Linked DNA regions of Homo sapiens: all the other regions are linked to region 1. The links come from fine-mapping of genetic effects on gene expression. A gene starts in region 1. Each other region holds a variant in brackets. All regions are shown on one strand. Distances are between the middles of the regions. Region 1 holds the start of GLIPR2 (GLI pathogenesis related 2). Region 2 overlaps LOC124902150 (a long non-coding RNA gene). Region 3 overlaps GLIPR2 (GLI pathogenesis related 2).

Region 1 (10,550 bases):
GAAAATAGACAGGGGTGGCAGCTGACTTCAGATCTCTGAAGTGAACAAAGGAGAGGAAGGAAGAGAAGAGAAGAACGAAGGCTTCTCAAGAGCCTCCTCTGTGCCAAGCGCTTTTCCAGCATACCTGGCTGAGGGACCCCAGGGGGATATCAGGGACTGCAGAGTGCAGGTTACCAGGGGGCCAGACTTGGGACTTAAAATAAAGGTCAGAGCTGCTAAAAGCCCTGGGCCTGGCTCCCCAGGGCTGAGGGAAGGGGCTGGGCTGTCTCTGCTGGGGTGGAGGGTATAGGTGTCCTAGGTGGGGCTGCACTGGGTTCTCGAAGTTCCTTCTGGAGGCCAGGCCTCTACCGCTGGAGGCTCTGTAGAGATTCTGAGGAGGACAAAAAAAAAAAAAATTAGCCATGCGTGGTGACCCACGCCTGTGGTCCCAGCTACTCGGGAGACTGAGATGGGAGGATCGCTTGAGCCCAGGAGATCGAGGCTGCAGTGAGCCATGATCGCACCACTGCACTCCAGCCTGCGTGACAGAGCAAGACCTTGACTCAAAAGAAAAAGAAAAAAAAGATTCTGAGGAGGTCTATGCCCCTCCTCTACCATTTAAACTTTTGGCTGAGACAGGCTCTTCCCTCAGCATCTTCCTCCTCTCCTGAGGCCTCCCTGAGCCCAGCCTGACTCACTCTGCCCTCTCCAGGCTCCTCATGAAAGAGCCAGTGACTGTCAGGGCCCAGGGCAGGAATTGTGAACAGGCCCCCTGCCCCCTTGGCAAAAGGCTGGAAAGCAGCCCGGTTCTGCCTTCGGGGCAAAGCTGGTTTTGCTTGTTTATCAGGAAGAAAGAATAAAAAGTTGGCAGTTTAAGGAAAAAAAAAAAAAGAATGAATTTCAGCTGGGTAACTCCTGCTCTTTAAGCCGGATCCGGGAATTTCAACAGCCAAATCCCCGCACTGCCTTTTACTGGCCATGCGATCTTGGACACGTTGCTTCAACACTCTGTGCCTCCTTTCCCCATACATAAAATGAGAACAGCAGTATCTACCTCACAAGGCTGCAGTGAGAGTTAAATGAATTAATCTATGTAAATGCTTTCGAACTGTTCTGGAATATAATGAACAGGTATTAAATGCCAACTGTAATGATTATTATTACCATCGGACAGGGACAGAAACCTTTTGGGCTTTGGCTTTAGAAGAACCTGTTCCTGCTCCTTCCGGGTCAGGTCCCCTCCTGCCCTGCCTTTACATTGACGTTTGATGGCCTTTTTCAGTCCCTCTGAGCTTGGATATTTGCTAAGTGAATGAGTGAGTGAACAAATGAATGAGGTTCTCACTCCAGCACAGCGAAGGCGGGACAGGATTCCTCTCTTCATTACAGATGAGGAAACTGGGGTGTTTGGATGGTGGGGGGCATGCGCATTGTCCAAGACCACACAGAGCCCACATTAGAGCCGGGTGTAAGAATGCCCCTCCCTTTACCCCCTCCCCTGCTCCAAATCTCCCACACTTTCCACTTTACGAATTGCTTCCTCTTTTCCAAATGGCAAGAATGATGTCTATGACGAGTTGCTCAATTGCTTACGGGAACAAGGCACCCCCTTCCCCCAAGCATCAGCCTCCCCTAGGCTGTCCCTCTCCATAGACAGTGGTTGTAATTGAAGGGGAGGCAGCCATTTTCCAGCCCTGCCTGCCTACTGTCACTCAGGCACATCCCTACCCCTCTGGGCCCCAGGTTTCCCATCTGTGTGTGAAGGAAGGATGACATCTGTGGTTTTCATAATATCTTCAAAGCAGGGAAACCCTTCCTTTGAAGGAAACCTTCAATAAAAGCAACAGATGAAAATGAAACTGCTGGGGTTGGCCTGGCCCACACAGCTTCTCCCTGCAGAGGCCTGAGGGTCCCACTCAGTAGAAAACTCCTGGGCTCGTTGGTCCCTAAAGGCCTCTCTGCTCTGATTTCCTCTGGTGCTAGGTGGATGGAGGGACACTAATATTCTTAGAGCTGATGAGAGGGTGTGTGGAAGTCCCCAGTGGCCTAGAGTTCAGGCTGGCAGGGAGCAGGGTGTCAGGGCAAGTGGTCAGTGTGGGAGAGAGGACAGGACACAGTAGGGGAGTCAGAGAGCTGAGTTCAAATTCACTGGCTTGCTTACCTGTCAGTGTGTGAGCTTGGGCAAGGTACTCAACCTCTGTAAATCTATAGAATGAGTTGATAATAACTGCCTGGCAGTGCTGTCACTAATATGGTAACATAGAAAATACTGAGCTCTTTGCCTGGCATGCAGTTGAAGATTAATCATTGGTGTCACCAGTATTAGGGACAGGAGGCTTCCACTGAGCCCAAGGTCATTGCCTTTCTCTTCCCCACCACACTTGCTGCACACCAAGTCCCAGCAGAGAAACCACAGCTGGGAGCAGGATCTGGGAGTCTTCGATCACTAGGCCAAGCGTCTTCTGGAATTTCAACTGTGCCAGCTGTGTGATGATTTTACAATAACGCCTGTTATGCCAAGCAGCTCTGGGGTGTATCTGAGGTTAAAGATGAAAAAGAGACTGGCTCCTGTGCAGTGAGGAGGAAACTGAGGCCCAGAAGGGGCAGGGACAGATTCCTTATGATGGTCTTTACAGAAGCACACAGAGCCCCTGTGAGTGCCACCTGCCCTATAGACACAGACAGCAGCCCTGGGCTGACGGCCTGGAACTTCAAGGTTGAGCTTGAGTTGAAGGACCACTGGGCACGGGGTCACCCAGAAAAGTCATTTTCTTTTAGGGACCCTAGGAGAGCCAGATATTAATACTATTCTGGGGGCTCTCGGTTTTCCGGTTGGGGTGGGGGAGTTAAATTAAATGCACGTGACTATGAGGGAGAAAGGCCTGGGTCAGAATTCTGCAAGGTCCCTGGGTGTGTGTGTGTGTGTTAGGGGTGGAGGTGGCCTCTGACTCAACCAGTTCTAACCTGCTTTCTGCCACTGGCCCCCTCCTCTCCTGAGTGAGAAGTAATCTTCCTCTGAAACCTGCCCAACCCTGCATCTCCAGGCATGGAAGCCATCATCCCATCGTGCAGGCCTCTGACCCTTCCCTCTGCTTCACAATAAGTTGTCACCAAGTCTGCCCAAGGCCACCATCTCACAAATCCATCCCATCCTCCTCTCCAGCCTCCACCCTGCCCTGGATGCCTCTGTCATCTCCTGTTTGTGACTGCGGCAGTCTCCCCTATCCTCCCTCCACCTTCTCTCCATCCATCCGATCTACCCTACACCCTGGCAACGCTCTAGTTACGCTGCTTTCAGATCAGTGCCTTTCCATGGCACCCCAGGTTCCATAAGATGAAGTCTAAATTCCCAAGACCCTCTGGGATTTGACCATCTCCTCCAGGAACCCTCGTCGGCTCCCACGCGGAGCAGTCTCCTCACCTTGAGCTCCCACCACCCTTCACCAGCACCTGTCTTGTGGTTTGGATCATTTTCCACCTCTTACTCGAGCCAGATAGTGCCTGTCTATCCCCTACATAGCTTTATGTATTCCTTTCACAATCCAAGTGGATGCACGCCCCGGCACTGGGTCCACAGCTTGATACAGAGCTGCTAGACAGTGCAAGGGAGGGAAGGAGGAAGGGGCGAACAGACAGAAGAATGGGCACACAGCTGAATATGAGCAGTTCTGGAAAACCGTGCCTTACATAAGATGCCAGAAACAACTGATTAAGGTGTAGCCTAGGCTGGGCGCACCTGTAATCCTAGCACTTTGGGAGGCTGAGGCAGGCAGATCATGAGGTCAGGAGTTCAAGACCAGCCTGACCAACACGGTGAAACCCTGTCTCTACTAAAAATACAAAAGTTAGCTGGGCGTGGTGGCGCACACCTGTAATCCCAGCTACTCAGGAGGCTGAGGCAGGAGAATGACTTGAACCTGGGAGGCGGAGGTTGCAGTGAGCCGAGATCGCACCACTGCACTCCAGCCTGGGCAACAGAAGGAGACCACGTCTCAGAAAGAAAGAAAAAAAAAAAGTAGCCTAAGGGAATTTGTGGATTTTCTCCACAAATTTCTACAGAGAAAGGAGTTGATTTCCCAAGCAGATATCTCGAAAGACTCGCTCTCATCTGCCATACTTTTGCTCCATCACCATCTGTCATCCTGTTAACTAAATGGCAACCCATTATATCACCTTTCCATACTGTGAAGAACCCCAGGGCTCATACGGCCACCCTCATTGTACAGACAGGGAGGAACAGAGGGAAGGAGGCTTGCTCAGTATCACACAGCCAGTGATTGGCTGGGCCAGGGCTGAAAGCCAGACCTGCCTCTACAGCCTAGGAAGGCTGGTTAGGACCAAGGCCAGGGAAAGCCACTTGCGCCCAGCGCTGGCATCTCCTGAGTCCAGATCTTGGAGGACAGATCCTAGAAGGGACCTAGCCTTACTCATCTGAAGTGGACAATCCGGATGAAGCAGGACTTCTGAATCCTGTTCAACAGCTGTTCTCTAAGAGCCTCCTGTGAGGCAGAAGCAATGCTGAGATAAACACGGCCCCTGGCAGCCAGGGGTGAGGACCCGGTGGGAAACAGGTCTATGGCTGAACTCTTGTCCCCGGCCCACTACAGGAAGGGCTGCAGCGAGGAAAACACCAGGTTGGGCGCTCCCTCCCGGGGGGAATCACAGATGGGCTCCAGCCCAGGAGCTGAGCCTAGAGGGATGGGATTTTCAGGCTGAGAGTTGGGGTGGTGAAGGCCCGGCAAGGAAACCTAGGGGAAGGGACCTGTGCACCAGCTTCTGGACAGCTCTAGTGTAGGGCGGAGGTAAGGGCTAGGGACCCACTCCCAGGGGCCCGAAGGCAGGACTGGAGTGTGTCCTTTCACTCTGAGGACAATGGTGAGGAAGGTGTTAGGGAGCGACAGGAGGAGAGCTGCGCTGCAGAAAGTTCATCCCGACAGCCACAGTAGAGAGGATGGGGTGCCCCAGGAGAAAGGGAGCCAGACCGAGCCTAGCACAGGGGGAGCCCGGCACGGCGCGGGCGCTCAGGAGAGAAGGAACAACAAATGGATGAGGGGGATGCTCAGGGCTGTCCTCGGGACAGCCGAGCGGGGCAAACTGCTTCGCAGCGAGAGCTGTTGTCACACTTTGGTGACTTTTCCAACTCTAAGTCTGGCCTCCTGAAACAAAGCAGAAGCCACGCCTTGGCGGGCCGCGGCGCGCAGCCCCTCAGGGTCGGGAAGCCCAACTTGGCGCGATCCCCGGCTCTCCGGCGGGGGCCTCCCTCGGGCTCGCCTTCCCCCCGGGTTCCCCGGAAACCGCGCCGGGGCGCTCCGCCCGCGCGCCCTCCACCCGCACCCCGGGCTCCCGCACTCCCCAGGACCTGGCTTGCGGCGGACGAGGGAGACGGCGAGGTCCGGGAGCGCGGGGTTCCGAACCATTCCGCAGCGGGCGAGCCCGCGGGCTCACCTGACTTGCCCATGGCCGGCTCCGCGCGCTCCTCGCTCCCCGCGGCTGCGCTGCACTGCGCTCGCCCGGCCCAGCGCCGCCCCAGAGCCCAGGACCGGGCTGATGCCGCGGCCCCTCCTCCGGCGCCGCCCGGCCCCCGCCTTATAAGGAGCGACAGCTGAGGGCGGAGGCGCCCGGGGCCACCCCGTGGGCCTCCCGGAGAGCTCACCCCTGGGAAGCAGCTCCGCGACTGCCGAGGGCTCCCCGGATGCGGCCGCGGGGCTCAAGCCTCCCGGACCCCACACCGAGCTGTCCCTTCCCGGGGCGCGTGGGGAAGCCCGCGCCTGCTGGGCCCCGGGTGGCTGCTCTGCGCCGACGCGCGGCGAGGACAGAGGGGCGCGCGGTCGCGGCACGAGGGGCGTTCCGGCCGGCGCCACCAGGGGACGGCCTCTCCCTGCCGCGGCCTGACACGACACACGCAGCCCCGGGGTGTGCCCCCATCTCCGGTGACTCTGGGCTCCGGAGGGCGGCTGGTCCGGGGAGGGGGATGCTCCTCTCCTAGGACACGCCCTCTAATGCCAGTCGGGGTGGAAGCGCCGCCGCCTCTGACCCGTCCACTCGCCCCTCATTGCCTCCCAGACCAAGCCAATTCCCACCCCTGCAGTCTGGCCCCAGACCTGTCTCCCCAACGCCCCACCTTTTCCCCATACTCCAGTCAAACTAGATGTCTTGTCATTCCCCAAACATGTTCTGGGATTTCCCACCTCCCTGCCTTTCCTCAGGCGGTCCCTCCTCCGGGAGTGCTGGCCCTGGAGCCACCATTCCAGTGCTGCCCATCCCTCGGGGTCGGCCGGTCTTTCCAACTGCCAGGTGCCCTGACCCTGGGAGCAGCACACACCAGGTACTGGGGAGATGTGGTCCCACCCATGGCCCCTGCCCCGTGGGAGAAGTGCACTTACTTGACCGCACAGCCCTAGTCACCTGTGCCAGACTTCCCGCAAGCGCTCCTTTCTGGGGAAGGGGCTCAGTACACCCCAAATGAAGGAAGCGAATTTTAAGGCTTTTCAATGAATGGGCACTGAAGTGAGCTGACCCACTGATGATAAGGCTAGAATTTGTAATACCAACGGCTTACGAATGTCCCGCAGGGCGATGGCTGGGCACTGTGCTCTCTATTCCTTTCCCCATGTCAGGCAAATACACCTACTGTATTTTAGTACCGTCATGAGTAATGACATTTCAGTCAATGCCAGACCACATATACTGTGGTAGTCCCAAGAGATTATGATACCATATTTTTACTATGTTTCTATGTTTACATCTGTTTATATATGCAAATTTTTACCATTGTGTTACAGTCACCTAAAGTATTCAGTATGGGTCAAATTGGTGCCCAACCCTGATTCAAAAGGGACTCCTGGGGCTGGGTGCGGTGGCTCACGCCTGTAATCCCAGCACTTCAGGAGGCGGAGGTGGGAGGATTCTTGAGCCCAGGAGTTCAAGACCAGCCTGAGGCAATATAGTGAGACCCCCCCTCCCATCTCTATAAACAAACAAAAGGGACTCCTGGTGCTAGGTGGGGATCTAACCCCCTCTATTCAATTCCCTCTCCCATTTTGTCAACAAATGCCTATTGAAATAATCAAATAAACACAGTAGGAAGAATTCCATGTTGCCCCTAGAATCTCTAGAAGGCTGTATTTCACATAACAAAAACTTTAAGGCCGTGGGTGGAGACAGTGAGGCTCAGCGGGCTGCTCACTGCACGCAGAGGGAAGCCCATCTGGGACCACCATGTTTCACTGACACCTTGAGGTCTGAGGACTGGAGGTGAGAGGGGCTGAGAGTGGATGCATTTCCTAACTTAGAAATTCATAACCTTAGCAGCAGGCACATGAAGGAACAGGGTGCTGAATGGAGGGTGTTAGGGCAGTGCCAAAGTCAACCCCGACCAAGGGCCGTGGGCTAGTTGGAGAGGGAGTCGCTGTCCAGGCATCAGACACAAGAGACAAATGGCCACAAAGGTCAGACACAAAGAAGAGTGATTGACCCAATGTATTGTCTTTGTGTGTGTGTGTGTGTGTGTGTGTGTGTGTGTTTTGAGACAGTCTCGCTCTGTCTCATAGGCTGGGGTGCAGTGGTGCGATCTCGGATCACTGCAACCTCCACCTCCTGGGTTCAAGCAATTCTCCTGCCTCAGCCTCCCAAGTAGCTGGGATTACAGGCATGTGCCGCCATGCCCAGCTAATTTTTTGTATTTTTAGTAGAGACGGGGTTTCACCATATTGGCCAGGCTGGCCTTGAACTCAAGTGATCTACCCACGTTGGCCTCCCAAAGTGTTGGGATTAGAGGCGTGAGCCACCCCGCCCAGCCACCACTACTCCATCTTTTAACTTTTAACCGTTTCTTTATATTTAAAATAGACATCTTATAGTTGACAAGATGCAGTTAGGTCTTTTTTTTAAATCCTGTCTGACAATATCTGCCTTTTAATTTGTATTAATACCATTCATACTTGATAACATTATTTTCTTTTTTCTTTTTGAGATGCAGTCTCCCTCTGTTGCCCAGGCTGGAGTACAGTGTCTTGATCTTGGCTCACTGCAACCTCCACCTCCCAGGTTCAAGCAATTCTGCTGCCTCAGTGCCCTCCCCTTGACCCCAGTAGCTGGGATTACAGGCATGTGCCACCACATCCAGCTAATTTTTGTGTTTTTAGTAGAAACGGGATTTCTCCATGTTGGCCAGGCTGGTCTCAAACTCCCGATCTCAGGTGATCCACCCGCCTCGGCCTCCCAAAATGCTGGGTTTACAGGCGTGAGCCAACACTCCCGGCCCGATAACATTATTTTCAAATTTGTATGGAATAAATACAAAAATTGACCAAATGTTAGGTCTTAAACTAAGCTGTAATAAATTCCTGAAAGTAGAAAAAATTCAGTCACATTTTCTGAGCACAATGTAATAAAACTAAAACTAAATAACAAAAGATTGGCTAAAAATTTTTGAATCATCTAGAAAATAAAAAAAATCCCTCTTACAGCACTGAAAGGCAAAATCAAAACACGTTCAGATATAAATGACAATCTGAATACTCTGCAGGCTGGGCGTGGTGGCTCACACCTGTAATCCTAGCACTTTGGGAAGCCAGGGCAGGTGAATCGCTTGAGAACAGGAGTTTGAGACGAGCCTGGACAATATAGAGGGACCCTGTGTCTCACAAAATTAAAAAAAAAAAATTACAAAAATTAGCCAGGTGTGGTGGCACATGCCTGTGGTCCCAGCTCCTCAGGAGGCTGAGATGGAGAATCATTTGATCCTGGGAGGTCGAGGCTGTAGTGAGCTATGATTGTGCCACTGTACTTTAGCCTGGGCAACAGAGCAAGCCCCTGTCTAAAAAAAAAAACAAAAAACAACAACAACAAAAACTTGGTAATTGTTAAGAGTGTGGAACATGGGTTTGAAGTCCTGTGGCCCAAGTTCAGTTTCTAGCTCTGCTGCCCACAGAGACTGTGGCTCTGGTTTGGGTGCTCGGGTTTCTCCATGTCTGTTTTCTCATCTGTAAAATGAAGATAATAATACTTATCTTAGATAATTTTTTTAGCGATGGTGTCTTGCTATGGTGCCCAGGCTGGAGTACAGTAGCTCACTGCAGCCTTGAATTCCTGGGTCAGATGATTGTCCTGCCTCTGCCTCCCAAGTAGCTGGGACTACAGGTGAGTGCCACTGCACCTGGCTTAGAGGATTTTTTTTTTTTTTTAAGATTGAGATCACACTCAAGGAAACTCACATCTACTTCAGTTTCTTTGGGATAAATTCCTAATCTTTCTGGGCTCCTCTCCACACCTTTGAGTTGCCTCCTCTAGACTCGGGTGCTTGGACAGGTGCATCCATCTGGCCGCGCCTGAGTCACAAGCCTTCACACAAGCACCCAGAAAGAGAACACAGTGCTAGGCGCGGTGGCTCACGCCTGTAATCCCAACACTTTGGGAAGCTGAGGTGGGCAGATCACCTGAGGTAAGGAGTTCGAGACAAACCTGACCAATGTGGTGAAACCCCGTCACTACTAAAAATACAAAAAATTAGCCTGGCATGGTGGCGCGAGACTGTAGTCTCAGCTACTCAGGAGGCTGAGGCACGAGAATCGCTTGAACCCAGGAGGTGGAGGTTGCAGTGAGCCGAGATTGTGCCACCGCACTCCAGCCTGGGCAACAGAGCGAGACTCTGTCTCAAAAAAATTAATAAAATAAATAAACAAAGAGAACCAAGGAAATTTCCCACCCCCTCTCCAAACCCCACAAGCTGCCAGAGTTAGAAAGGGTCTTTTACATTCAAATAGAGACTCTACCACATGCTGAAAAGCCAAAAACCAGCGAATGTCAATCGTATCTCCATTCTTAAAAGGAGAAATTTTGTTTCTGTCCTAAATCTGTTTTCCCAGAACATGCTGCACCCCATGACTCAGCCCCTTCTCAGTGTCTAAGCTCTTACATCATTATGAATTATTCCCCAAACTGGTTTATGAAACAAACTATGCTTTAAGCCCTCCAGTCTTTGGCTCTTGATTGGCAGAGGTTTTCGGAATAAAAAATTCACTGTAATAGCCAGTGGGTGAAAGGCCATGACAACTAGAAAAGTGGGGGAAAGAAAACTGGCAGAAAGTCTCCTTATTTTATCCTGTTATGCTTTCTTTATTATTGTGGTTAGAAAATACATGGGATGCAGCCAAAGATGTACTTAGAGGAAAGTATACAGCATGAGAAATATGAACATCGGTTGTGAGTTAGACCTGGGCTCAAAATATCTTGCTCTGCTTTTCTTTTTCTTTTTTTGAGATGGAGTCTTGCTCTGTTGCCCAGGCTGAACTGCAGTGGTATGATCTCGGCTCACTGCAGCCTCTGCCTCCTGGGTTCAAGAAATTCTCCTGGCTCAGCCTCCTGAGTAGCTGGAATTACAGGCGTGCGCCACCATGCCCGGCTGATTTTTGTATTTTTAGTAGAGACAGAGTTTCACCATGTTGGCCAGGCTGGTCTCAAACTCCTGACCTCATGATCTGCCCTCCTCGGCCTCCCAAAGTGCTGGGATTATAGGCATAAGCCACTGCACCCGGCCTTGTATACCCTTCCTAAGAGGGGAATATTTGACT
Region 2 (10,550 bases), 150 kb before region 1:
TTATTATTTCATTAAAGCCACAGACCTAAGGCCTAGTCTTATTTGTATAAGAAAAGATAAGGAACAATGATGTTACATTTTCTAATCTAGAGTAGCTAAAAGTTTACACAAATGTTAACCCAGTACTAGAAAATGTGAGGATAGGTCTGATTCCATATCTTGCATCTTAAAAAAGTCATACTGTAAAATCTACTTCAATAATCAAGATGTTTAATCAGTATAGATTTGTGCGTATTTATCCCCGTGTTATGCTCTGTGAGTCCAAGAATAACTCATTCTATTGTGCTTTGCTTTATCACACCTTGCAGATACTGCACGTTTTACAAATGGAAGGTTTATGGCAACCCTGCCTGGAGCAAGGCTATCGGTGCCATTTTTCCAACAGCATGTGCTCACTTCACGTCTGTGTCACATTTTCATCATTCTTACAGCATTTCAAACTTTTTCATTATTATAATTATGACTGTGATTATTATTTCGAGACAGGGTCTCACTCTGTTGCCCAGGCTGGAGTGCCGTGGTGCGACCACTGTAGCCTCAACCTCCTGGGCTCAAACAATCCGCCCACCTCAGCCCCTTGAGTAGCTGGGACTACAGACGCATGCCACTAGTTTTTTTAATTTTTTTGTAGAGACAGGGTCTCATTATGTTGTCCAGGCTGGTCTTGAGTTCCTGGACTCAAGTGATCCTCCAACCTCAGCCTCCCGAAGTGCTAGGTTTACAGGCATGATCAGTGACCTTTGATGTTACTATTGTAATTGTTTTGAGGTGCCACAAATCGCACCCATATAAGACAGCAAACTTAATCAATAAGTGTGCATGTTCCGATTGCTCAACTGACCAACCGGCTATTTCCCCATCTCTCTCCCCTCTTCCGTGGGCCTCCCTACTCCCTGAGACACAATAACATTGAAGTTAAGCCAACTAATAATCCTACAATAGCCTCTAAGTGTTCAAGTGAAAGGAAGAGTCGCACGACTCTCACTTTAAATCAAAAGCTACAAATGATTAAGCTTAGTGAGGAACGCATGTCGAAAGCTGAGATCGGCCAAAAGCTATGCCTCTTGTGCCAGTTAGTCAAGTTGTGAATGCAGGGGAAAAGCTGTTGAAGGATGTTGAAAGTGTCACTCCAGGGAACATACAAATGATAAGAAAGCAAAACATCCTTATTGCTGATACGGGGAAAGTTTGAGTAGTCTGGATAGAAGATCAAACCAGCCACAACATTCCCTTTAGCCAAAGCCTAATCCAGACCAAGGCCATAACTCTTCAATTCTGTGGAGGCTGAGAGAGGTGAGGTTATCTATAGAAGAAAACTTGGAAGCTAACAGAGGCTGGTTCATCAGATTGAAGGAAAGAAGCCAGCTCTATAACATAAAAGTGCAAGGTGAAGCAGCAAGTGCTGATGTAGAAGCTGCAGCAAGTTATCCAGAAGATCTGGCTAAGATCACTGACGAAGGCGGCTGCGCTAAACAACAGATTTTCAATGTAGATAAAACAAACAGCTTTCTCTTGGATGAAGAGGCCATGTAGGACCCTCATAGCTAGAGAGGAGAAGTCAGTGCCTGGCTTCAAACTTTAAAGAACAGGCTGGCTCTCTTATTAGGAGCTAATGCAGCTGGTGGCTTTAAGTTGAAGTCAGTGCTCATTTGCCATTCTGAAAATTCTAGGACCTTTAAGAGTTATGCTAAAGCTGGCCAGGCGTGGTGGCTCACGCCTGTAATCCCAGCATTTTGGGAGGCCGAAGGGGGTGGATCACCTGAGGTCAGGAGTTTGAGACCAGCCCGGCCAACATGGCAAAACCCCATCTTTACTAAAAATACAAAAATTAGCCAGGTGTGGTGGTGCATGCCTGTGATCCCAGCTACTCAGGAGGCTGAGACAGGAGTATCACTTGAACCCAGGAGGCACCCGGGAGGCAGAGGTTGCCGTAAGCTGGGATCACACCACTGCACTCCAGCCTAGGCAACACAGCGAGACTCTGTCTCAAAAAAAAAAAAAACAAAAAAAAAACATGCTAAAGCTACTCTTCTTGTGCTCTATAAATGGAATAGCAAAGCCTGGATGACAGCATATCCGGTAATTAGCATGGTTTACTGAATATTTTAAGCCCACTATTGAGATTTACTGCCCAGAAAAAGAAGAAAAGATTCCTTTCAGAAAATTACCACTCACTGACAGTTCACCTGGTCACCCAAGGGCTCTGATGAAGATGTGCAAGGAGATGAATGTTGTTTTCATGCCTGCTAACACAACATCCAGTCCATAGCCCATGGATCAAAGAGTAATTTTGACTTTCAAGTCCTATTACTTAAGAAATACATTGGCCGGGCATGGGGGCTCACGCCTGCAATCCCAGCACTTTGGGAGGCTGAGGCGGGCGGATCATGAGGTCAAGAGATCGAGACCATCCTGGCTAACATGGTGAAACACTGTCTCTACTAAAAATACAAAAATTAGCTGGGCTGGGTGGCACACGCCTGTAGTCCCAGATACTTGGGAGGCTGAGGCAGGAGAATTGCTTGAACCTGGGAGGTGGAGGTTGCAGTGAGCCAAGATTGCGCTACTGTACTCCAGCCTGGGTGACAGAGCAAGACTCCATCTCAAAAAAAAAAAAAAAAAAAAAGAAAGAAATACATTTTGTTGGGCCATAGCTGCCATTGATCTTGATTCCTCTAATGGATCTGGGCAAAGTAAATTGAAAGACTTTGGAAAGAATTAATCATTCTAGATGCCATTAAGAACATTCATGATTCATAGGAGAAGGTCAAAATAGCCACATTAACAGGATTTGGGAGAAGTTGATTCCAACGCTCATAGTTGACTTTAGGGGGCTCAAGACTTCTGTGGAGGAAGTAACTGCAGATGTGGTAGACACAGCAAGAGAAGTACAGTTAGAAGTGGAGCCTGAAGATGTGACTGAATTGCTGCCATCTCACAATCAAACTTGAATGAAGGAGGTGTTGTTTCTTCTGAATGAGCCAAGAACATCTTTTCTTGATGTGGATTCTACTCCTGATGAAGACGCTGTGGACATTGTTGAAATGACAACAGAGGATTTAGAATATTACATAACGCAGTTCATAAAGCAGTGGCATGGTTTGATAGGATTGATTCCAGTATTGAAGGAAGTTCTACTGTGGGTAAATGCTATCAAATAGTATCTCATGCTACAGAGAAATCTTTGGTGAAAGAGTCAATCGATGTAGCAAACTTCATCATTGTTTTATTTCAGGAAATTGCCACAGGCATCCTGATCTTCAGCAGCCACCACCCTGATCAGTCACCAGCCACAACACTGAGGCAAGACCCTCCAGCAGCAAAAAGATGACTCACTGAAGGCTCAGGTGATCATTAGCATTTTTCAGTAATAAAGTATTTTACAAGACCAGTGCTCTAACCCATTAGCTATGGAGCCGTAATAAAGTATTTTAAAATTCCAGCGGGCATGGTGGCTCACGCCTATAATCCCAGCACTTTGGGAGGCTGAGGAGGGTGGATCACCTGAGGTCAACAGTTCGAGACCAGCCTGGCCAACATGGAGAAACCCCGTCTCTACTAAAAATACAAAAATTAGCCGGGAGTGGTAGCGGGGGCCTGTAATCCCAGCTATTCAGGAGGCTGGGGCAGGAGAATCGCTTGAACTCATGAGACAGAGGTTGCAGTGAGCTGAGATCACGCTACTGTACTCCAGCCTGGGTGACACGGTGAAACTCTGTCTCAAAATAAATAAATAAATAAATAAATAAATAAATAAATAAGGTATATATGTTGTGCTGGGTGCAATGGTGGATGCCTGTAATCCTAGCACTTTGGGAGGTCAAGGCAGGTGGACTGTTTGAGCCCAGGAGTTTGAGACCAGCCTGAGCAACATAGTGAGACCCCATCTCTAAAAAAATACAAAAAATTAGCTGGGTGTGGTGACTCATGCCTGTACTCCCAGCTACTCAGGAGGCTGAGGTGGGAGGTTCGCTTGAGCCCTGAAGGCAGAGGTTGCAGTGAGCCGAGATTGTGCCACTGCACTCCAGCCTCGGCAACAGAGTGAGCCCTGTCATTAAGAAAAAAAAAAAAAAAAAAAAAACGGCCGGGCGCAGTGGCTCATGCCTGTAATCCCAGCACTTTGGGAGGCCGAGATGGGCGGATCACGAGATCAGGAGATCGAGACCATCCTGATGAACACGGTGAAACCCCATCTCTACTAAAAATACAAAAAATTAGCCGGGCGTGGCAAGCGCCTGTAGTCCCAGCTACTCGGGAGGCTGAGGCAGGAGAATGGCGTGAACCCAGGAGGCGGAGCTTGCAGTGAGCCGAGATCGCGCCACTGCACTCCAGCCTGGGAGACAAAGCGAGACTCCGTCTCAAAAACAACAACGACAACAACAACATCAAGGCTGAACTGACCTTTAGCACCAAAGAGACCACTCTGTCTCTCCTCTCTCAGGTTTAACTTTCTCATAAAAATCTTACCCCCAGCCCATTTTAACTTAACTCACAATATATGCCTGGCACTATGCAAGACTCTGGAAATGTGAAGAGGAACAAAATAGCTATGGCTGACCCCTAGTTGGCCACAGTTTATAGTCTACCAGAAATAGTTATCAAAGTGTGGTCTGGGGACCTCGGAGGAGGGAGGGAGAGTCTTGGAGCCCTTTTGGGGCTGTGTGTGAAGGCCAAACTACATTCCTGTATTCATAATAATATAGCCAGTTCTCTTTCTTCATGGTAGTTATGTTCTATAAAGTTGCTGTGAATGCTGAATAAGTGAATACTGAATTATTACTCTTAAGGGAAATACAGGGTTAGGTTCCTAAAGCCTCTGGTCATTTTTGTCAACCAACCAATACGTAACTTTGTTTTCTGTGTATTTCTATTTAAAGATACCTTAACATGAGAGGATGGTGGCATGTATGCCATCTCCCATTCATGTTCCTACTTCCCTGGAAGGCTGAGATGATTTCTTATGCCTTCCAGGTTCTGATGAGATTAGGGCTTTATGCTGTGGCCCCCTCAGAATAGAGCTGCAGAATACTAAAGCCCTTAGCTGCAGCTAAGAATGAGCTTCTCGAAAGGGCGTCCCATGGCTTGCCTTGCAGTTATCTGACCCCTCTTGTTTTGGTGTTGTCCTTTTGGTGAGTGGGACAAAGACCATAGGAGCTGGCACCTTGAGCCACTCTTCCTTTTGCTGTTTACGTAAGTGCCAAACAGTCTGATCTAAAAGTAGCCTGTTGTACCTTTCCGGTTCAACCAGGCAGGCCTTGTCCTTGCCCTCGTGTGTGCTCAACAAATAGGAAAGACCAAGAGGCAGGTATTAGATCAGCGTATTGCCTAGGCATTCTGCTCATTACTAGCCCATCTGACCCCTACATCTGCAGCCTGAAACCCAGTGATGAGAAAATTCTCCACGTTACAACCCTCATAAATGGCATTAACCTCTTCTAGAAGAAGATGGATTGCAAATGATTTTTAGATGTTCTTGTGGATAATACTTGCAGTATCTACACATTTAACGTTTGTTCATATTACCATCATTGCAGAACACAGGGGTAAAAAAGCTGCAAGTTGGAGAAGGAGTCTTTGCTTCTCCAAAGGAGACTTCTCTCCTCTTTTGCTCTCTCAGGAAAGAGGGGACTCTAAAGTAGTTCACTTAGGGGTGGACCATGCAACATGGCTAAAAATGAGGCCTGCCCAGAGACCAAGGCTTTTCACAACTTCCTCTGTCATTCTGTGAAACTTAGTCTTAAACAGATCAGGGTTTTGCCTGGCTAAAAACTGTATTCTCTACTTTATCTGAAGTGAAATGTATTTCTCCTGTTCCAGCCAGTGACCAATCCAACCATCTTATCCTGGAAAAAAAAAATAAATTGTAAGCATCCTCAAGATGCATTCACTTTCGAAGTTTTATTATTTACTGGCTCACAAAGTAATAATGTACACTGTAAAAAAGTGTGCAAGGCCGGGCTTGTGGTGGCTCACGCCTGTAATCCCAGCTCTTTGGGAGGCCAAGGTGGGTGGATCACGAGGTCAGGAGATCGAGACCATCCTGGCTAACATGGTGAAACCCTGACTCTACTAAAAATACAAAAATTAACAGGGCATGGTGGTGCGCACCTGTAGTCCCAGCTACTCAG[G/A]AGGCTGAGGCAGGAGAATCACTTGAACCTGAGAAGCAGAGGTTACAGTGAGCCAAGACTGCGCCACTGCACTCCAGCCTGGCAACAGAGCGAGACTCCGTCTCAGAAAAACAAAACAAAAAAAAGTGCAAAATACAAAAAGTAGAAATAAGCACACAGAAAAATCAGTCTCGCATCTACAAGGAGGCAACAACTGTTAATATTCTAAGATACTTCCCTTAAGTCCTTTATGTATTTTTTTCCTTTACACAAGCACAACTCTATATGCGATCTTGTGCTTAGCCTTTTGATTCACATCATTTCATATTTCTCCATGATTTCACATTGTAAATATCATGTTGACTAACTGCATAGCGATTTGTGGATGCATCAAAATTTACCTAACTCTTCCTCAAACATGTGGCACGTAGGTTAAGAAGCTTGTCACTCTTGACACAAGCTATCTGAATGAGTGACAGACGGTATGGTGTGGTTAAAATAGCAGTGACTTTGCAGTCACATTTTTTGACCCATGTTTGAGATCTGGGTCAGCCACTTGTAACTTGTTTGTGTGACTTTAGGCAAACCACTTAATTTCTCTGAGCCTCAATTCCTTTCCTGGTCTATAAAATAGGACAGGTAACTTCCACTTCACTGAGTTGTTCTAAGTCAGGAGTGGACAGACTATAGCTCAGCGGCCAATTCCAGGCCACTATCTGTTTTTGTAAAAAAAAGTCTCAAAGGCACACAGCCATCTCCATTCCTTTATACATCGTGTATGGCTGCTTTTGTACCACAAGGGCAGAGCAGAGAAGTTGTGACAGAGACATGGCCTGCAAAAATATCTGGCCCTCTATAGAAAAGATTTGATGACCCCTATTCTAAATAATGGACATGAAAGTAATTCTGTAGACAGAAAAAAGCCTAACCAAATGTGAAAGATTATTCATGGCAGAGCCTACAGTAGGTGCTCATTAAACATTTGTTCTAAGGATGTGTAGCTCAATGGAGAATTGTATTCACCAGAATCCCTGCAGAATGAGTCTCTGTTTAGGAGAAGCATGAAGGAGGAGGTGATTCAGAAGAGCATCAGGATGGGGTGAGAACCCTGTGCAAAGGGACAGAAAAGGAGATTTTTAACACCTGGGAAACTACAGGGACAAGGAGAACTGTGTGAAGATGTTTAGAAGCTTTCTGGATGATGCTCTGAATAAAACTCCTGTGCAGCCCAATTAAAGTAAACATCTACAGTAAACATCAACATGGTTCTTTAAGACTCAGAGCAAGACCAGTGTTTATTTAACTTCAACTCAATGTAGGGATTGGATCACAAGGAGTATAGCTTTCAAATAGATTATCAAATGGACAGAATAAAAATAACAGCTCAGGCTGGGCATGGCAGCTCACGCCTGTAATCCCAGCTCTTTGGGAGGTCAGGGCAGGAGGATCACTTGAGCCCAGGAGTTTGAGACCAACCTGGGCAACACAGTGAGACTTCATCTTTGTATTTTAAAATAAGCTAATTAATTAAATAAAAATAAAAATGTCTCTGGGCATGGTGGCTCACGCCTCTAATCCCAGCACTTTGGGAGGTTGAGGCAGGCGCATCACTTGAGGTCAGGAGTTTAAGACCAGCCTGGCCAACATGGTGAAACTCCATCTCTACTAAAAATACAAAAATTAGCTGGGCACGGTGGCATGTGCCTGTAGTCCCAGCTACTCAGGAGGCTGAGGCAGGAGAATCACTTGAACCCAGGAGGTGGAGGTTGCGATGAACCAAGATAACGCGTCACTGCCCTCCAGCCTGGGCGACAGAGTAAGACCTCCGTTTAAAAAAAAAAAAATCAGCCCTAATATTGAATTTACAATACAAAATTTTAATTATATGTGCTCCCATAAAGCACAATGAAGAACATCTTATTTATTAAAAAGAGGATAATATTTCACTGAGCAGGCTGGGCACAGTGGCTCATGCCTGTAATCTCAGCCCTTTGGGAGGCCAAGGAGGGCAGATTGCTTGAGCCCAGGAGCCTGAGCAACATGGCAAAACCTCATCTCTACAAAAAATACAAAAATTAACCAGGCGTGATGGTGGGCTCCTTTAATCCCGGTTACTCAGGAGGCTGAAGCACGAGAATTACTTGAAACCGGGAGGTGGAGGTTGCTGAGCCGAGATCGTGCCATTGCGCTCCAGCCTGGGCGACAGAGCAAGACTCTGTCTTAAAAAAACAAAAAACAGGCTGAGCAAGGTGGCTCATGCCTGTAATCCCAGCACTTTGGGAGGCTGAAGTGGGAGGATCACCTGAGGTCAGGAGTTCGAGACCAGCCTGGCCAACATGGCGAAACCCTGTCTCTACTAAAAATACGAAAATTAGCTGGGGTGGTGGTGCATGCCTGTGATCCCAGCTACTTGGGAGGCTGAGGCTGGAGAATCACTTGAACCTGGGAGGCGGGGGTTGCAGTGAGCTGAGATCGTGCCACTCTACTCCAGCCTGGGTGACAGAGTGATACTCTGTCTCAAAAAAATAAACAAAAATAAATAAATAAAAACAAAAAACAATTTTAAAAAATGGTAGTAAGGTCAGACTTTTGATCATATATTTTTTTGAGTTCCCTAGTGCTATTCTGCCAATTTTTTCTATTGGACAGCTTTTTCTCTCCCATTGCTGATTTGTAAGCTCTCAAGTGAGGTCCTATAGGCAGTCTATGGACAGTATATTAAATACTGGATATTTTTGTTTATTTATTTCTTGAGACAGTGTCTTGCCGTGTGGCCCAGGCTGCAGAGCAGTGGCAAGATCACAGTTCATTGCAGCCTCAAACTCCTGGACTCAAAGCAGTCCTCCCAGTTCAGCCTCCTGAGCAGCTGGGACTATAAGCATGTGCCACCAAGACCAGCTAATTAAAAAAAAATTCTTTTTGTAGAGATGGGTATCTAAATATGTTGCCCAGGCTGGTCTTGAATTCCTGGCCTCAAGTGATCCACCTGCCTTGGCCTTCCAAAGTGCTGGGACTATAGGTGTGAGCCACCATGCCTGGATATTTTTATTGGGAGGAGGGGATGTCTGTCAAGATTAACCAAGAGGAAGTGAAAAAGCATAACAATCATCCATGAAAACTGGCCAAGTGGTGCACACTTTTAGTTCCAGCTACTTGGGAGGCTGAGGCAGGAGGATCACTTGAGTCCAGGTCTAGCCTGGACAATACAGCAAGACCCCACCTCTAAAAAATACTATCCATGGATCCACTCCTTTATCTGCCTGAAAAAAGAAGGTCCTGCCCTGGCACACTTAGAAGTGTTCTCTCCTGCCTCTCTATAAAGACGGAGGAAGCGGAGAAGACAACTTTTTTTTTTTTTTTTAACAGAGTTTTTAGTTAAGAGAGAAAAAAGAGCAGACTGGATGTGAGGAAACAGATGGGAAGAAAGAGCAAAGAGCAGAGATTTAACAAAAAATGTTGTTGAGGGTTATGTATACCTTTAACATATTTGAAAAATATAAGGGCCAGGAGTGGTGGCTCATGCCTGTAATCCCAGCACTCTGGGAGGCCAAGGCGGGTGGATCACCTGAGGTCAACAGTTCAAGACCAGCCTGGCCAACATGGCAAAACCCTGTCTCTACTAAAAAATACAAAAACTAGCTGGGCGTGGTGGCACACACCTGTAATCCCAGCTACTCGGGAGGCTGAGGCTGGAGAATTGCTTGAACCCTGGAGGCAAAGGTTGTAGTGAGCTGAGATTGTGCCACTGCACTCCAGCCTGGGCGACAAGAGCAAGACACTGTCTCAAGAAGAAAAAAAAATAAAGAAAAATATAAGAAAAAAATGAGTTATTTTAGCATGGTGGCTCACACCTGTATTCCCAGCACTTTGGGAGGCCGAGGTGATAGGATTGCTTGAACCCAGGAGTTCGAGATGGGCCTGAGCAACATAGTGAGACCCAGTCTCTTTCAAATAAAATAAAATAGACTTCAGACCATGGTTGACTTCAAAATCTATAAACATACAATGGTTAACTAAGAATTTCTGTGCCTGTGGGGGATACCTTTTAGTATAGTTTCTCTTGAGTGGAATGTGAAGTTGTGTGGTAGATAAGGCTAGGCTGTTCCAGTGGTCAAATGAGCATTTACCAGTGAAATGGAGAGTTGTTTGATAAGTAGATCATTGGTCAGTATCCCTTGCTACCAATCTGGCTGTGAGAGTCCCTAAGCACCAAAAGCAAGACACGAGCAAGACTCCATCTCAAAAAAAAAAAAAAAAAAAAAAAAAAAAAAAAGAAAAGAATAGAAAAAAAAAGTTTAGAATTAGAATTACGTATGTGTGAAAACAATGTGAAAAAAGACTTTTGTAGATTTTTGAACTACAAAAAAGACTTTTGTAGATTTTAAGAAACTCAGAAGAAAACTTTTTCTAGTGGAAAGTAAAATTATTGGATGGAATGGGAAA
Region 3 (10,550 bases), 28 kb before region 1:
GACCACGGAATCAAGCAGGGCCCCTTTCCGCTGGTAGACCAGCAGGCTGCATGGCCGCTCCTGCTTGCGGTCCATCAGGACACTCTCAATCAGGGTTGTATGGGATGAGGTGTTCTCCATGCCCACCAGCTTGTTGCTGGCAAACACCAGCGTCTTATTGGAGACAGCATTGAGATTGATGTAATTGAAGAACTTCTTGAAATACTTCTCCCGATCCTCCTTCCGGAAGTACACCCAATTGATGAGTGCGCTGAGCGCCTGGTCTTCATTGAGCACGTGAAGGTTTTCATCACGGAGCAGGCGGCCAAAGATAACAGGTGGACAGCGCATGAAGTGCATGGAGCCCTCAGGACTGGCCCAGTAGTGGAAGTTGTCCCGAATGCCAGAGTAAGCTACGTCTGATACCTCTTTGAGCTCAAACAGCTCAGCCAAGAAGAGGTAGCGCAAGCAGTTGGCACGGCAGATGGACTTAATAAGGAAGTCGTTACAGTGAACTCGAAGGCGTGGTGTGTTGAAATACTGAGCCCCACGAAGCAGCTCCTCCACATTTTGCTCGGAGATCACCACCTTGCCGCTATAGAAGTAGTCCAGAAGCTGGTCCACTGTGACCGGGCTCAGGTAACTGGTGTCAATGGTGATGAAAAGCTCATCAGCGGTCTTCATGTCATTGCTGGAGATGAGGCTCCTCACCAGTGGGGAGACAGCAGCCAGCACATTGCGATGTGCAAAGAAGACGTGGTTGTCCACACTCAGGGCCATGTCCCAGTACTCTTTGCGTTTCCTCTGTCTGTTCAGGTTCTGCAGCACGAAGCTATTGTAGTTTTTCTCCGTGAATTCCAATTTCATGGTGCCTCTTGTCGGCTGAAACAGATCAGCAGCAGGTACTGGAGAGCAGACTTTCTCAGGCCTGTGGGATCAGATTGATGGTTGTTTGCAGAGCGGTTGACCAGGGAGAAGAGAGGGTGGAAGAGAGGATGATGTCATAGAGTGGATCAGGTCATCACAATGCAGGCCTCCCTGAGGCCTGTCTCAGAGGCACTGGGCCTTCCTCCCCTCTGATCTCTCCAACCTGCCAAGGCCACATACCCTAGCAGGACCTAAAGCCCTGGGCCCAGAGCTCAGGAGGAACCTCAGGGATGGGCGGCAACTTCCACCTGGGACTTTCAAACCGTAGTTAAAGGCTTCTGGAATATCAGAGCCAGTCTGGGTGGGGCAGTGGGGAGCAGTTTGTGTAGGAGAGATAAGGGGAGGTGGGGAAAGGGAAGAGATTATTAGACCTAGAAGAATCCTCCCATTTTGAGGGAAACTGAGGCCCAGAGAAGAGAAGGCACTTGCCCAAAATCACATAGCCAGTTGGAAGCCGAGCAGGGCCCAGAACCTGGGGAACCTCGCATTCTTCCTACCCTTCTGGAAGCTCCTGACTACCCAGCTTTCCCCAGTCTCTGACTCTCAACTCTCCAAGCACTCTTCCTGCCAAGGCTCCTGGGCATCAGAGAAAAGCTCTGTCCTTTGGCTTCTGACCTTGGTGGCCACAGACATCATTCTCCTTCAAAATGGAGAGGTGGAGGCCACTCCCTGGAGCAGGGATGAAGGAGTTAACCACAAACGGGGGCATGGGAGGGTCTTTAAAGACCGGATGATTTCAGCTCCTTGGCAAACTAGAATGTTCCCCCAACATTTCCAAGTGTCCAGTTGGAAAATGTTGGGGGCTTCAGTGGGTCAGCTTTCTCCATCAAAGGTGGACTTGGGCGAGTTGATCAGACTTTCTAAACCTCAGTTTCCTCCTCTGTGAGATGGAACTAATATTTGATAGTAGTACCCACTTCAAAGATTATTATGAGTTTATTTTTATTTTTATTTTTATTTTTTTGAGACAGAGTCTCGCTCTGTCACCCAGGTTGGAGTGCAGTGGTGCGATCTCAGCTTGAAACAGCCTTTGCAAAATTATGACTGAGACAGTGAAAGAGATCAACTTAACTGACTCCATCTTGCTTCTAACCTCCAAGCTGTCCTTGCTCATTCCTTGGCAAAGGCTGAACTAACTTTGGGAGAAACCTATATGTATAGTTTACGGTTTAAACAAAGACAGCCCTTTCCCAAAGCAGACCTCCTTCTTGCCTGGGGACTAGATTGCCTTTGTAGGACTAACATTAGCCACAAGATTAGAAATTATGGTTTAGGAGTCATGTAGCTGGAGGCTACAAGATTCTAACCCTCCCTAAACTGCTCCTAAGACCAGTGCTTGAGATTTCTCTTTTTTTTTTTTTTTAGACAGTTTCGCTCTTCTTGCCCAGGCCGGAGTGCAATGGTGCGTTCTCGGCTCACCACAACCTCCAACTCCCGGGTTCAAGCGTTTCTCCTGCCTCAGCCTCCTGAGTAGCTGGGATTACAGGCATGCACCACCACACCCGGCTAATTCTGTATTTTTAGTAGAGATGGGGTTTCTCTATGTTGGTCAGGCTGGTCTCAAACTCCCGACCTCAGGTGATCCACCTGCCTCAGCCTTCCAAAGTGCTGGGATTACAGGCGTGAGCCCCCGTGCCCGGCCGGTGCTTGAGATATTTTGCAGAACCTGCACTTGATGGATCAGCTGGCACCACTCAGATCAATAAACTGGCTCATCTGATCTTGTGGCCCCCAGACCCAAGAACTGACTCAGCCCAAGAAGACAGCTCCAACTCCCATGATTTCATCTCTGACCAATCAGCAGCACTCCTGGCTCACTGGCTTCCCCCTACCCACCAAGTTATCTTTAAAAACTCTGCTCCCCCAATGCTCCGGGAGACTGATTTGAGTAATAATAAAACTCCAGGCCGGGCGCGGTGCCTCATGCTTGTAATCCTAGCACTTTGGGATGCCAAGGTGGGCGGATCACCTGAGGTCATGGTTTCGAGACCAGCCTGGCCAACATGGCAAAACCCTGTCTCTACTAAAAATACAAAAATTAGTTGGGAGTGGTGGTGCATGCCTGTAATGCCTGTAATCCCAGCTACTGGGGAGACTGAGGCAGCAGAATCGCTCGAACCCGGGAGGCGGAGGTTGCAGCGTGCCCAGATCGCACCATTGCACTCCAGCCTGGGCGACAGAGTGAGACTCCGTCTCAAAAAAAAAAACCCCAAAAAACAAAAACAAAACCCTCCAGTCTCCCGCACGGCTGGCTCTGTGTGAATTACTCTTTCTCTGTTGCAATTCCCCTGTCTTTTATTACCCAACCCCCCAACCCCCCTCACCCCCCACCCCCAGTAGCTGGGATTACAGGCGCCTGTCAACATGCCCGGCAAAGTTTTGTATTTTTAGTAGAGACGAGGTTTCACCATGTTGGCCAAGCTGGTCTCGAACCCCTGACCTCAGGTGATCCGCCCGCCTCGGCCTCTCAAAGGGTTGGGATTATAGGCGTGAACCACCGTGCCCGGCCTATTATTAGAGTTTAAATGAGAAAAGGACTGGAGAGTAGTGGGCTTGTCATAAAGCTCAATCAATGCTAGCTGCCGTTTTCTTACTCATATTACACCAGTTCGCCCAGCGCCGGCGTTCGTGGCTGCTCCCTTCATAAAAACTTGTGGTCATCGTGGTTCTGGTTTCGCGGTAGCTGAGGAGGCTGTGGCTACCTCGCGTCTCTTCTGGGCCCGCCGCCCGAACCCAGTCCAGCCACGCGGTGGCGCTGGAGGGTCGTCCCCGCCCCCGAGCGCACCGCCTCTGCGCCGGGCACCACCCCAACCCCTCTCCAGGATGGAAAAGAGGCGCGGGGCGTCCCCTTTTTCGCTTTGCCTCCACGCGCCACCGTGCAAAGGCGGCAGCGCCGTGCCGTCCGCCGCGACCCTGGAATTCAAACGGCAGGATCGGGGGCTCTCAGCCTTGCAGGACTCCTTAGATTTCCCCAGACACACACCTGTCCCCACTTTACAGATGGGGACGCTGAGCCCCCAACGGAGGCGCGCCCTCCAGAGGCCAGAAGACTGTCTCCGACTCCCAGTAACAGCTGGGGGGGTTTCCTGACCCCTGCGAGTCCTTTGCGGGGAGAGAGGAGGGTGCCCGCAGACTCGGACAGATTCCTGGCTGGCGTGGGGCTCCCGGAGTCCTGTGGGGCGTCTGTGGAACTGCTGTTCGTGCAAGAAGGGGATAAGCGCCAGCTGGAGCGCCGCGGGCGGGAGGGAGGGGGAGGCAAAAGAGCCCAGTAGCCCCACCCGGACCAGCCTTTGGGAAGAGACCCCAGAGAAGGGCCTGGACTTGCATCTCGCCCAGGCATTCGCGAGAAGGTACAGAAAGGACTTACCTCTCTGATCTCCTCCAATCTGGGCCCAAGCCCCACTCTAGACCCTCGGGCCGTCCTCAGTGCCCCTCCCGGGAAATTTCAGTATCAGCCTCGGGAATCTGAGCCGTTCCAGCTCTTTCCCTCCCTGGCTTAGTCATATTCTCATTCTCATTGTCTCCCTCCCTCGTCCGTTCATTCCAGACTAGTCTTTTCCTTATTTTTAGATTTGGTAACTTGAAAATTATTTGAAAATACGCCCCTTCCCTTTTTTTTTTTTTTTTTTCTGAGATGGAGTCTCACTCTGTCCCCCAGGCTGGAGTGCAGTGGCCCGATCTCGGCTCACTGCAACCTCCGCCTCCCGGGTTCAAGTAATTTCTTGCCTCAGCCTCCCAAGTAGCTGGGATTACAGGCGCGCGCAGCCACGCCCGGCTAACTTTTGTATTTTTAGTAGAGACGGGGTTTCACCGTCTTGGCCAGGCTGGTCTTGAACTCCTGACCTCGTGATCCACCCACCTTGGCCTCCTAATGTATGGGATTACAGGCGTTAGCCACCGCACCTGGCCAAAAATACCCTTTTAAACTGAATTTGTCCACCTTCCCGCCCGAATGCGATAGAGAGACTCGGTCTCTTGGGATATGATACGTGCACAAAGTGAAGAACTTCTGTTTTCCCCATTGGAAGTAGACTTCAATTTCAGCCTCCTCCTCCGGA[G/A]ACCAGTCTCCCTGGGAGAATAATTAAGCCCTTAATGCCTCTTCAGCCCTTACCTTCTGCAAAGCAGCAGCAGCAACTTGGGTGAATGATGAGGCCTCTTGGTGCTGATGCCAGACACCTTCTGGCTCCCATGGACATGCAGGCTGGCAGATCTCGCCTCCTGGGACATCTTCACCCGGGAGCAGGGGGTGGGTGGGTCAGGCCCTGCTGCTTCACACCTCCTTTGTCCTCTCCCCTGCCCTCCCACCTGCAAGCTTCAGCCTTGGGAGCATTTCAGTGGAGGAGGTGGCCATGCCTGTTTGTTTTTGTTTCAGCTCCCAGAGCACCAAGGCAGGAATGAGCTCTCTCATCAGACACTTCCAGCATTAAGTTGGGTCTGGAGGTGTCATGGGGACCTGAGAGAACTGATAGACCTAACTCCATGTGACAGACCTCGTACAGGTGGATAAATTGAAGCCCAGGGAGAGGAAGAGGCTTGCACCAGAGAGCTGTCTTCTTCCTCTGCCCTCTGGCTACAAAGGAGAGCCGCGGTTTGGTTTGTCCTTGTTCTTTTTGGATTGTGAGGCTTGCCATCTTCAAGAAATCCTTAAAAGTGAGATTAGTGCCCACCTGCTCAGCCAGCTTTGCTGTCTGGCATTTCTTTAGCCCAGGAAAGCTCCCCGGTCCAGCTTTTTCCTCAATCCAGCCAACTGTGGAAACAAACTCCAGCCCATAGAGGCTGGCTGCATGCTGGCTTCCACCACCTGGTTGTGTGTGTGTGTGTGTGTGTGTGTATGGGGGTGGGGGGGGTGACCCGAGGAGCCACCAAGAAGTTCATTGGCTGGCAGCTTGCCAGGTGGGGCCAGAAAAGGATCTCAGCAGGGTCTTTTCACCCACCGTCAGCTTCCTACCAGGCGCCACATTTTCTGTTCATGGTGTCTCCCGTTAGGAAGAGATGGTATGATTCTAATCTTTGGGGACTATCGGCTGGTATATCAGTTTGTTTGGAAGCCCTGAGGAAAATGAGGGGCATATTTTAAAGATATACAGATTTGGGCTGGAGCTAGAAAACTCAGGAACATTCAAGAATATTCTCAGCATCTCCTCCTCTTTTGTACCTCCAATAACTGGCTTCTTCGCTTCTGTGTATTTCCTATTCATAACTTGGCTTGCAAGTAGCTTTGGTTTGCCATGGCCCTAATTCCAATTTATGGCATCCTTATTTTTTTCAGTTCCACTGGTAAATTCTCTCCATAATTCTTAGCTGAAATTCCCAGTCCATGGCCAGCCTGGTGATTGGCTGCCGTTGGATCCAGTGTCCACTCTAGTCCAATCAGCTCTGTGCTGGTGGGTCAGATGGCTTAAAACTTGGCCACTTAAGCAACACAGTCCACGGGGAATGGGTTGCAGGTATTCTGGGGTTAATCGAGAGAGGGATTCAGAGTCACGGATTGTCTCAGCCATGGAGAATGAAGTATGAATCACATTGGAGGAGGTTATTACACAAAGAAAAAGATTTTATTGTCTTCTTAGTCAATATCCCTGGTGAAATTAGAGGCATAGCTTGAGACTGGTGACAGTGCAACACAGACCTTCAGGAGCTGCTTTGAGGACTGGCCTGCCCAGATGCCTGCTGTTAAGCCAGCAGCCCCCTCACTCCGGCCCCTGCCATCTTGACAGATGGAGCTGCCATGGTTTCAGGGACACTCAGCAGGGCATCTGGGTTGGTCCCTCCCACATGGACCTTGTAAAGTTGCTATTCAGGGGAACCTGGTATCGTTTCAGGCAAAACACAGAACCATATTAGCACTTCTAAGCCCCCTGCCCCGGCCGCCTCCCCGGAACATTTGGGCTTGTCGCACATTCCAGGAGGGAGCAGGAGCACAGCTGCAGCCACAGCTGCCAGGAACAGGCCTGGGCTCCCGCCCTGTGTGGGGGGAGGGCAGAGGCTGAGGGCTTCCTCTGGGGGCCCTGAGTAAGCTCACCCTCACCCCACCTCTCTGACTTCATCCATCCAAGGCCGCTTGGCCAAGAGCCCAGGCAGGGTGAGGGGCTGTCTCCCAGACCAGGCCTGGGCTGCCTAGCAGAGGTGGGGGAGGGGGAGCTTCAGGCCTAGCCCAACTCTCCAGAAACCAGGGGTAGCCTGCTGAGCTCTGAAATGCCAGAAGTTTAAGAAAAGAGGGAAGGGGGCAAGAGGTGGTGGTGGTAGTGGTACTTTGCTATTTAAAGGTAGAAGAATGCAAGGAAGTAAAACTTTTTTTCTCCATTTGTTGTTTGGCGACCCCATTGGAGAATTCCAGGAGGCATGCAGGATGACATCATGTTTTACAACTGAGAAATCTCAGTAATTCTGTAAAATGGAGTCCCTGCCTGCTCCATGTTCCTGATGGAAGCTGCTTTGTATTTATGTGCTTAAAGCTGTATTTTATGTCACATTTAAATGAGGGTTTAATAATCTTAATTATCTACCAAAAGTAGATTACGACGCATGAAGATCACATAAAATGAACTTCACTTCTCAGCATCACAAACATTTGGAATACAAAAAGTCCAGGGATGGATATTAGAAGTAAGAAAAGTACAAAAGAGGTTTGCTTAGAAATAACAAAAAATTAAAAAAAAAAAACGGATCCCCCCTCCCCCCAATCCAAATAATCGTGGTCTAGGTAACCATCGGGGTAAATGCTTCCTTTGCTCACTCCTGTAATAAGAATGAGCGCACACAGAACTGTATGTCCAAGTGTGTGTGCCAGAGACGCTCACATGCATCACACACACAAGCACATACACCCACAGGGACAGACGCACAGCCAGGTTGTGGTGGTTCTAGGCACTTCATATCCACGTTCTTAAGTCTGCCACCTTCCCATTACATTTAACAAGTTACTTCTTCGGCGGCAGGACGTTTTCTTCGAAGAAGCCCTCATTGACAACATTCCCCGCTGGGAAGTATCTGGCCACCACAAAGGAGGACCCGTCACTTGCGGACGCCTTCCCCACGCCCATCTTCTTGGTGTTCTTCCATACCATGGCCGTGAAGTGTCCTGTAGGGGAACGGGCAGAGGGAGAGGGACACGGCTGAATTAGCAGAGCCTGAAGAAGGATGTGGCAGGGGATTGTTGAACCCCTGTACCATCTTGCCAGGCTCAGGTCAGCATGGTCTTCACAGACCCCCTGCAGGGGAAGGAGAGAGAAAACACTCTGACTGCCTGACTTCTTTTTTTTTCCCCCAAGATGGAGTCTCGCTCTGTAACCCAGGCTGGAGTGCAGTGGCATGATCTTGGCTCACTGCAACCTCCACCTCCTGGGTTCGAGTGATTCTCCTGCCTCAGCCTCCCAAGTAGCTGGGACTACAGGTGCATGCCACCACGCCCAGCTAATTTTTTTGTATTTTTAGTAGAGATGAGGTTTCACCATGGTCTCGAACTCCTGACCTCAGGCGATCCACCTGCCTCAGTCTCCCAGTGCTGGGATTACAGGTGTGAGCCACTGTGCCTGGCCAGACTGCCTGAATTCTAAAGCAGGTCCTTTCTATCAGCCACACAGACCTTACCCACCTCACCACCTTCCAACAGTCTCCCAGAGATCACGACAAAGCCCAGTGGCCCCAACAATTAGGATGCCACTCTACTGCCTACTGCCTGTGTCTAACCCTGTCCCCAAGCTGTAATCTTGAAGCTCTCCAGTGATCCCCTTTTGTCTTCATCTTACTTGACACCTGAGGAACACTTCCTACTCTTCTCCTTTTCAAGGCACCCCTCCCCCTTTTGGTTTCTAGGATGCCACAGTCTCTTGCCATTCCTCCTGTCTCACTGCCTCCTCTTCCGCCTCCTCGCCCTCACTTATAGATATTGAAGGACCCACACTTCCCAGGGCTCAATCCTGGGCCCTTTTTTTTTTTTCCTCTAAGCTCTCTTTAGGGAATTTCATCTTTCCCTGGCTCCCAAATTTATTTCTCCAGCTCAAATCACTGCTCTGTGTTCCAGACATAACTAATTACTGGACATTTCCACATGGATGACTCACAGGCATCTCAGATTTAACCTTTCCAAACCTCACTCCCAGTTTTTGTCCCCCTAGATTTATTCCTCTCCCAGTCCTCCCATCTCCATCAATGGTACCTCCATGTGCACACTGCCAGGGGGAGTCTGCATCCCTCCTCTTCTTCCTTTTCCCCACAACAACCTAGTATTCAGTCTTGAAGAATCCAACTCTAAAATGCATCTCAGGTCCACCCACTCCCAAACCCTTGGTCCCAATTGCAAACTTTTCTCACATGGACCATTGCAATAGCCTCCTGACTGGTTCTATGGCATCCACCTTGGCCCCTCAAAATCATTTTCTTTTTCTTTTCTTTTTTTTTTGAGACGAGTCTCACCCTGTCACCCAGGCTGGAGTGCAGTGTCATGATCTCAGCTCACTGCAACCTCCACCTCCTTGGTTTAAGTGATCCTCCCACCTCAGCCTCCCAAGTAGCTGGGACTACAGGTGTGTGCCACCATGCCCAGCTATTTTTTTGTATTTTTAGTAGAGACAAGGTTTCACCATGTTGTCCAGGCTGGTGTTGAACTCCTGACCTCAGGTGCTCTGCCCACCTCGGCCTCCCAAACTGCTGAGATTACAGGCGTGAGCCTCATTTTCTACTTAGTATTCAGAGTGACCATTCTGAGATATAAATCATATCTATTTACTTCCCTGCTTAACAATCCTTCACTCGCTCCCCAATGCACTTAGAATGAAAGTGAATCCTTTGGTGCAGTGGCCTCCTCTCCATTCCTTGAACACACCAGAGTATGTCCCACCTCAGAACCCTTGCACATTTTTTTTCTTCTGTTTTCCTTCTTTCTTCTTCTCTTTTTTCTTCTCTCCCTCCTTCCCTTCCTCTTCTCTTTTTCTCTTCTCTTCCCTTCTTTCTGACAGGATCTCTGTCACCTAGGCTGGATGGAGTTCAGTGGCATGATCATAGCTTACTTCAGCTTCCACCTCCAGGGCTCAGGAGACCCTCCCACCTCAGCTTCCTGAGTAGCTGGGACCACAGGCACATGCCGCCACTGCCGAATCATTTTTCAAAAAGTATTTGTAAGGCCGGGCGCCGTGACTCACGCCTGCAATGCCAGCACTTCGAGAGGCCGAGGTGGGCGGATCATCTTAGGTTGGGAGTTGGAGACCAGCCTGACCAACATGGAGAAACCCCATCTCTACTAAAAATACAAAATTAGCCGGGCATGGTGGTGCATGCCTGTAATCCCAGCTAATCGGGAAGGCTGAGGCAGGAGAATTGCCTCGGTTTCCCAAAGTGCTGAGATTACAGGTATGATCCACCATGCCTGGCCAAGACACCCTTCTGATGACCAACAGCTTCTTGTCCCTTGGTCTTAGCCTAAATATCATTTGTTCAAAGAAGTCGTTTGCAAACACCCTTTTATTTATTTATTTATTTTTGAGACGGAGTCTCACCGTTGCCCAGACTGGAGTACAGTAGCGTGATCTCGGCTCACTGCAGCCTCCACCTCCCATGTTCAAGCAATTCTCCTGCCTCAGCCTTCCAAGTAGCTGGGATTACAGGTGCACGCCACTATGCCCGGCTAATTGTTGTATTTTTAGTAG

Evidence for each region. PIP is the estimated chance that this variant, and not a neighbour inherited with it, causes the effect.
Region 2: its variant is fine-mapped to the expression of GLIPR2 in nasal epithelium (TOPMed, PIP 0.92).
Region 3: its variant is fine-mapped to the expression of GLIPR2 in left ventricle (GTEx, PIP above 0.99).

The regions. Positions count from the first base shown.
Region 1 is chr9:36,131,666-36,142,215 of GRCh38, reverse strand. GLIPR2 (GLI pathogenesis related 2) reads right to left here and starts at 5,483. Exons shown (of 5, transcript NM_022343.4): 1 at 5,425-5,483. The coding sequence starts at 5,437. RefSeq lists silencers at 5,182-5,231, 5,262-5,831.
Region 2 is chr9:36,277,185-36,287,734 of GRCh38, reverse strand. LOC124902150 (a long non-coding RNA gene) reads right to left here. Exons shown (of 3, transcript XR_007061473.1): 3 at 2,596-3,027. Among named protein-coding and RNA genes, the nearest start is that of GNE, 24 kb to the right of the region's middle. The variant G/A (reference allele first, on the strand shown) is at 6,129.
Region 3 is chr9:36,159,799-36,170,348 of GRCh38, reverse strand. GLIPR2 (GLI pathogenesis related 2) reads right to left here. Exons shown (of 5, transcript NM_022343.4): 5 at 6,443-7,987. The coding sequence ends at 7,827. CCIN (calicin) reads right to left here and starts at 961. Exons shown (of 1, transcript NM_005893.3): 1 at 1-961. The coding sequence starts at 846. RefSeq lists a silencer at 3,546-3,755 and enhancers at 3,355-3,855, 3,946-4,055, 7,437-8,017, 8,018-8,598. The variant G/A (reference allele first, on the strand shown) is at 4,965.